Linked DNA regions of Homo sapiens. The protein of the gene in region 2 interacts with the protein of the main gene of each other region in a biochemical or structural test. Each region holds a gene or a part of one and is shown on either strand. Other genes may lie near its edges. The genes, in order: LILRA4 and BST2.

Region 1 (3,911 bases), about 37 Mb from region 2:
TGGGGGAGGCCATCGGCCCCCTCCTTGTACAGAGTGTATCTGATGTAGCCGACATCAGAGCCACACTGGAGGGTCAGATTCTCTCCGGGGGTCACGACAGGGCCCTGCAGGGTCAGGAGGGAGGGCTTCCTAGACACGCCTGGAGGGAAAGATGAGTTGGGACTCGGAGCGGCTGGTTCCTCCTGCGCCCCTTCCTTCTGTAGCCTTCCTCACTAGGGTTTCCAGCGTCCTTGTTTTTTTCTCATTCTGTATTTGTGTCCCCAGGGCCCCCATCTTCCCCTCATCTTTTCTTCTTGCGTGGGCTAGCCCGAGGGTAAGGCTCCCAACAGCTCACCTGGTGCCCTGACTTTGTATAAGGAAAAGCTACGGCTTCCTCACCTGACACCAGTAGCTGCAGGGGGTCACTGGGTTCCGACCACACGTATGGGGTGTTGTTTTCATAGCCGTAGCATCTGAATGTACCCCTGTTGCTGAAGGTCAGGGGGCCCATGGGGAACAGGGCCTGGAACTTTCCATGGTTGTGTTGGTGTGAGTTCAGGGTCCAGGAGAGCCTGTGGTCTCCTTCCTCAATCAGAGTGAACCTGCCCAGTCCCAGCCGTGAGGCACACCGGAGGGTCACGTTCACTCCTGAGGTCACCACAGGGCTTGGCAGTGCGGACAGGGTGGGTCTGCTGTAGGCTTTCAAGAGAAAAAAAGGCAGCCGTGTTTAAATGGGGCTCACACCTCCCACCTTATCCTACAAGGCTGGGCTGTGAGAAGGGAGACCCCTCGAGAGCTGAGAGCCGACCCCCTTCCCGAGGGCAGAGCCTGGGGCTGGGACCCCTGAGTGTCCTCTCACCTGTCACCACCAGCTCCAGGGGGTCGCTGGGCTCTGACCAGCCTGCAGGGCTCTGATAGTAACAGTGATATCGCCCTGCATGTTCCCACATCATGGATGGGATGGAGAGTTTGACCTTGTTTTCAGACTCCAGTGTTTTTAATATGTGCCTCGACATTGAGTTTCCCTCTTTATCCAGACGGTACCCCTGGGCCTCCAGGGTGCCCTGACACCAGATGGTCACGGGGTTATGCCAGGTGATCACGGGACCTGGCTCGGCCCACAGGATGGGTTTGAGTAGGTTTTCTGGAAGGAAATTACAGGTTAGGTCCCAAGATGTCCTCAACCCTCAGATCCCAGCTCTCAGCCCCAGGACCCCCCTCATCCCCATCAGTCAGCCCAGAACTGCTGTCTTCACCCCCAGCTGCCCAGGGGTGGTCCCTTGTCCCCAGAGAGGAGGAGGGACCTAGGACAGCTGGGGACAGACTCACCTGCCTGCACCCGGGTCCTGGGGCCCAGGCTCAGCCCTGGAAGAGAGTTCCCTGTGAGAGATTTGCCTCCGAAGCCTGAGCAGGTCTTCTTCTTTTCCTTGAGCCCCTGGGATGCCCTAATTGACTAAGGCATGGCTATGGATTGGGGTCTCTCTCCTAGACTAGGGTCTCTCCTCCCCCTCTTAAGATCTCACCAAAGAAGAGCAGGCTTGTGAGAATGAGGGTCATGGCATCTCCTCCTCCTGGCCCTGGCTGTGCAGGCAGGTGTGGCCACGGTGCCCGTAGACACAGACAGACACATGGTGTGCGGGCACACGGAGGCTGGGTCCTCCCCATCACGAGGTTGTCCCATCAGCACACCGACAGAAAGAGGAACTGCCCCTCCCCAGGACCCTGGCTCTCATTTCCCAGGGCTTGTCCTGGGGGTGAGCACCAGGCTCTCTGCCGATATTTCAGACACAAATGGGGATTCACAAGGGGGTCGTTAAGAAGGACATTTTCGGCCGGGCGCTGTGGCTCACAGCTGTCATCCCAGCACTTTGGGAGGCCAAGGTGGGTGGATCACTTGAGGTCAGGAGTTCGAGACCAGCCTGGCCAACATGGCAAAACCCCGTGTCTACTAAAAATACAAAAATGAGCCGGTCGTGGTGGCACATGCCTGTTATCCCAGCTACTCGGGAGGCTAAGGCGGGAGAATCACTTGAACTCCGGAGGCAGAGGCTGCAGTGAGCCGAGATCACGCCATTGCCTTCCAGCCTGGGCAACAAGAACAAAACTCTATCTCAAAAAAAAAAAAAAAAAAGGACGTTTCCATCTCTGTGTGGCACAGAAAAGGAAGTCCAGGGTCCTCACAGACAGGGAGGAACCTAGGGCTCCAGGTGAAAGTGAGACGCTGTGGCTGCCCCTCTTCTGTGTTTGCACATGGGCACTGCCATCTCTCTGCTTCCTTGTGGGAGCCATGAGGGGCAGAAAGAGGAACTGCCCCTCCCCAGGAGCTTGGCTCTCATTTCCCCAGGGCTTGTCCTGGGCGTGAACACCAGGCTCTCTAGAGATATTACAGACAGAAATGGGCTCTCCCCTCACTTTGGCTGCGTCTATCTAATCTGTCCTCATCTCACCAAGGGCCAGGATGTAGCAGCAAACAGACCCGGTGCCTTCTTGATTCAGCCCCTTCCAGGTGAGAGGGACTGATGGTTCCTCCTTCCCTCTCAGAGCCTCCCCATGGAGGAGGCTCCATCTCCCCTGTGTGTGTGTGAAAAACAGGCTGTCTGTGGTATTGTCACACCTGGACATCTGTCCCACACGTGAGTGGGAGGTCACATTGGACTCCGCCTTGCCAGCCACAACTTTGGGCAGATGCTAAGTTTGGAAGAGTTGATGCTCCTGGACAGGAGCAGCTGTAACCACCCGCTCTGGACAGGCCTGATTTCTGAGTCGTCTCTGGGAGAAATGTTCTTTGTAAGATCATGTGCATGGGGGTAGATGGACAGCATGCAGTGTATTTGAGAAGAGATAGACAACTAGAAATTATGTAGGCAGATGTGGCTGTGGTGAAAATAGTAGGTAGAATTAACACACTTAAAAATCAATTCTATGGCCGGGCACGGTGGCTCGCACCTGTAATCCCAGCACTTTGGGAGGCCCAGGCGGGCAGATCACTTGAGGTCAGGAGTTCAAGACCAGCCTGGCCAACATGGTGAAACCCCGTCTCTATACTAAAAATAACAAAAATTAGGCTCATTTTTGAATCCCCTTAAACATTACCAGCCCCTAAATGTCTGCTCTATGGATTCTTCTTTGAATTCAGTATTAACATCTTTCCCGTTCCCTCGTTAATAGTAAGCTAAATAAAAACTTGTGTCCATTTTATCCTTCTAGAAGAGCAATTTTTTTTTACCTTTTTGAAAAAAAAAACTTTACCAAAATATATTTAAGATCAAGAATGCTGGTCATAAGCTGTGAAAATCTATGTCTTGTCTTAATCATTCCATCAGCATAAAAAATGTAGCAATGCATGTGAAGTGTTGGTTCCAGGCAAACCTGCTTAAGACTCAATGTTCAAGGTTGTTATTAGGTGGGGGCCATATAGGCATAATGGTCAGTCACAGGGAAACCAGGGAAAAGCTGCTGTTCATCAGCATTTTTTTTTTTTTACAAACTCATCAACAGTGAGCTACATTGTTTGCGGAAATGGCCTAGTCAAGACACAGTAGAATTCAGTGCTGCAGTCACACAACACCAGCTTATCTCTTAGGAACATAGGGAACATTCCAGGAGCCATGTTTAGGAACTAGATGCCAGCTAAGGACCAACTTTACAAGCAAACTCTCCCAACGTTATCACCCTTGCAGCTGTGAGATTAACTCGTTCTTGCACACCCTGTACCTGAAAAAAATAATAGTCCTCTTGAATGCAGCAGCACCTTGTTCACCCGGAACATGCCTCCGCTCCTCCAGATTCTTCCCGCCCTATCTCAGTTTTTTTCTGCAGATTCTCCAAGGTTCTGCAAACTGTAAGCAGTAAATCCACACTCAACTTGAGTTTTCATGAGGGAAGCCGTCTGGGGCCTTCTCTGGCTGTGCTGAGCCTGAACGAGCATCCCC
Region 2 (3,911 bases):
GCCCCCACCCCCTCTTCCATACCTGACTCACCCCTCCCCGGCCCTCTCCCTTCTCCCTTTCTCACCCTCAAGCTCCTCCACTTTCTTTTGTCCTTGGGCCTTCTCTGCATCCAGGGAAGCCATTAGGGCCATCTAAGAAGAGTTAGAATCTGGGGTTTTGGCCTGGGGAGTTTGGCTGCTGCCCCTGGGACCTGGGCCTCCTCCCTAGGTCCTGGGGACAGAGGGGCTTAAATGCAAACCCCTTTCAGGTTTTCTTCCAACCCTCTCTGCACCATGGTCTCCAACCTTAAAGAACAGCCACAACCACACACTCTCCCAGGGCCACCCATAAGCATGTGGGTCCTCAAAATGGGAGTTTTGAGGCCACCCCACGTGGAAACTTGGAGGCTATCGATAACCAAAGTTTAGTGGACATTTCCAGATTGCCTGAGCAATGGCCCAAGAAAAGTTAGAGGGCCCTACCAAATCCAGAATGCAGTGGGATTTCCCCGCCCAAGTGACATGCCCAGCGAGAGTTTCAAGATCCCCCATATCAGGACCCAGGTGAATATTTCAGTTTCTTAGGGATGAAGTGAAAATTTCAAAAGCCCCCTTTTTCAGGGTCTGGTGAGGTCCCCCTTCAACCCTGAATAGGGATTTCTACTCCCCCAGGACTGGTGCCCACGAGGAGTTTCAAGGCCCCCGACACCAGTGCCCTGGAAAGAATTTATAAATTCACCTAAGTCCCAGGGGGATACTGAGGTCCCCGATTTGGGGGATCTGGAGAGTTTTAACACCCTGCCCCTACACCAGTGCCCTGGACTGGGTTAGGGGCCCACAAACCCTGGTAGGGGAACCTAGGTCCCTTGATGTGGGGGCCCAGGAGCAGTTTCAGGACCTCCCCTGCATCTCCCTGGAGACCCACCCTGGGTCAGATTTCTGGGGAGAGATTCTTGTCCCTCCCACCGCCTAGTACTAGGCCATCCAAAGGAGTTGAGGAGCTTACCACAGTGTGGTTGCAGGTGGCGGCCTGGGCCTCCACATCCTGAAAGCCCTTCTGGGCCTCGGTCAGCTCTTGTTGCAGGAGATGGGTGACATTGCGACACTCCATCACTGCCCGAAGGCCGTCCCGGCAGGCCTCGCTGTTGGCCTTGATGGTGAAGATAATCAAGGGCACCCCCAGAATCACGATGATCAGGAGCACCAGAATTCCTATCCCCAGCAGAAGCTTACAGCGCTTATCCCCGTCTTCCATGGGCACTCTGCAATAGTCATACGAAGTAGATGCCATCCAGATCTCCCCTTTAGAGTCTGGCCTGGAGTTAGGGGAGGGTGCTGGAATCTTCTACGGGCCACCCCTTTATTAGCATAGGAAACGTCCTGACCAATAGCAAGTTCCAGGAAGTGCTCTGACCAGCAGCTCTTGCATGAGGCACCTACAGGCAGAGGATTAATTAGGTTTTCAGTTTCAGTTTCCCAGAAAGGAGGTGGGCTTTTTTTTCACCCTGCTTTAAAAGCCCTTGGGCCCTTCCCAGCTGGGTGCCAGCCAACTGTGGCTGCCTGGGACACTCCATCTTAAGTCCCTGTGCCTCTGCTGTGTGTTACTGAGTGCCTAGGCCGTGCCAGCCTGTATTCATCTGTACTATGACCTGAAGAGGCAGAGGCCATCACTGTTGGTCCGGTCTCCACCTGGGGAAACTGAGGTTGCACAGTTGCGTGGTGGAGTGAGGGCAGGGCCTGGGTCTGGGGGCGGGGCCTGGGTCTGACCCCAGGGACTGGTTTTTGTGTTCAGGTGTCTCTGTGGTGACGAGCAGGGCTTCATCCAGTGCCTCTGTCCCCACCGAGGGGACTATGGGAGACATGGAGGGTGTGTGAGCAACAGGTGAGACTGGAGCCAGCTGAAAACTGGGAGACCGACCCAGCCAACAAACAATGTCGGTCTCTGTCTTGGCACCTGCAGGAAACAAGCTCCTACTTCCAGAAAAAGTGCTCCTGGGACTCCAGGATACCAGGTAAACTCTCTGAGCCTGTTTCTTCATCTGCAAAGGGGAATAACAGGGCCAGCCTCAGACACTGTCCATGTGGCCAAGAGAGCCAGGGCTTCCTACAGGAAATCAGGCCCATTATCGGCACCCAACTGCTGGGCATGACCGCTGAAAGGGGACTGCATGTTTTTCTTGTGGCTTCTTCAGCCACATCCTGACCACAGCCCAGATTCTGTTAGGTCTGCCATTTCCATGTTTTTTTTTCTTTTCAGCAGGGCCAGACAGTAGGCGAGGTCAAGTCCAGAGCCCAGGCCTCCCAGAAGGCCTGGGGAACTCCCCCCAGGCCCTGACTCCAACATCCCTCAGAAGGACCCCATTAAAGCCACTTAGAGCCAGGCATGGTGGTACATGCCTGTGGTCCCAGGCTGAGGCTGGGAGGCTGAGGCAGGAGGATCACTCGAGCCCAGGAGTTTGAGGCTGCAGCGAGCTATGATTGTGCCACGGCACTCAAGCCTGGGTGATAGAGTGGGATCCCATCTCTTAAACCAATAAACAAAAAAATCACTTAGAACCAAGAACCAATTAACAAGCTGTGGGAGATGATCTTGCTGAAAATTCTGAGGGTGAACTTGTCCCAGGAGGAGGGACCTACCAGCCTGGCCAGGACTCCAGGTGCAAAGACACGACCTTTGCCTGACTTATTTGACTAAGCTGACTTATTTGAGCAGCACTGTTCTGGCCTGCTAACTTTAGGGTTAGTTTGGGACCAGGTCGGAAATCACAATTGCATGAATTGCACATTGGAGGCCAGGGTGGTGCACCTCTGGGCAAATGAATTTCCTCTCTTAGCATTGATTTCCCCAGCTGTAAAATGTGGATAATAATAGATTGATGTCCTCTCTAAATTTTGCAGCTGTAAACAGTCCCAGCCCTGCAAACCGAAAGTTTGTTGCTCTTCCCTTTAAAATTACTGTAGGGACCAGCCCCACAGGGTCAGTGGGTCTCTCCCTGTGTGCGGCGACGAGAGAGTGTAGAAATAAAGACACAAGACGAAGAGATAAAAGAAAAGACAGCTGGGCCCGGGGGACCACTACCAGCAATGCGCGGAGACTGGTAGTGGCCCCGAATGTCTGGCTGTGCTGTTATTTATTGGATACAAAGCAAAAGGGGCAGGGTAAAGAGTGTGAGTCATCTCCAATGATAGGTAAGGTCACGTGGGTCACGTGTCCACTGGACAGGGGGCCCTTCCCTGCCTGGCAGCCGAGGCAGAGAGAGAGAGAGGGGACAGACAGAAAGACAGCTTATGCCATTATTTCTGCATATCAGAGACTTTTAGTACTTTCACTAAATGACTACTGCTATCTAGAAGGCAGAGCCAGGTGTACAGGATGGAACATGAAGGCGGACTAGGAGCGTGACCACTGAAGCACAGCATCACAGGGAGACGGTTAGGCTGCCAGATAACCGCGGGCGAGCCTGACTGATGTCAGGCCCTCCACAAGAGGTGGAGGAGCAGAGTCTTCTCCAAACTCCCCCAGGGAAAAGGAGCCTCCCTTTCCCGGTCTGCTAAGTAGTGGGTGTTGTTCCTTGACACTTTTCGCTACCGCTAGACCACTGTCCGCTCGGGCAACGGGCGTCTTCCCAGACGCTGGCGTCACCGCTAGACCAAGGAGCCCTTCTGCTGGCCCTGTCCGGGCATAACAGAAGGCTTGCACTCTTGTCTTCTGGTCACACCTCACTATGTCCCCTCAGCTCCTATCTCTGTATGGCCTGGTTTTTCCTAGGTTATGATTGTAGACCGAGGATTATTATACTATTGGGATAAAGAGTAATTACTACAAACTAATGATTAATGATATTCATATATCTCTAAGATCTATATTTGGTATAACTATTCTTGTTTTATATTTTATTATACTGGAACAGCTCGTGTCCTCAGTCTCTTGC

What was found.
Region 1: the proteins of BST2 (region 2) and LILRA4 form a complex in vitro, tested with the Homo sapiens proteins (2 studies listed by IntAct).

Annotation. Positions count from the first base shown.
Region 1 is NC_000019.10:54,337,558-54,341,468, forward strand, and holds the start of LILRA4 (leukocyte immunoglobulin-like receptor subfamily A member 4 precursor), read right to left. Parts: upstream 1,606-3,911; 5' UTR 1,537-1,605; coding exon 1,503-1,536; intron 1,345-1,502; coding exon 1,309-1,344; intron 1,124-1,308; coding exon 839-1,123; intron 679-838; coding exon 379-678; intron 140-378; coding exon 1-139.
Region 2 is NC_000019.10:17,404,306-17,408,216, forward strand, and holds the start of BST2 (bone marrow stromal antigen 2 precursor), read right to left. Parts: upstream 1,326-3,911; 5' UTR 1,271-1,325; coding exon 986-1,270; intron 133-985; coding exon 66-132; intron 1-65.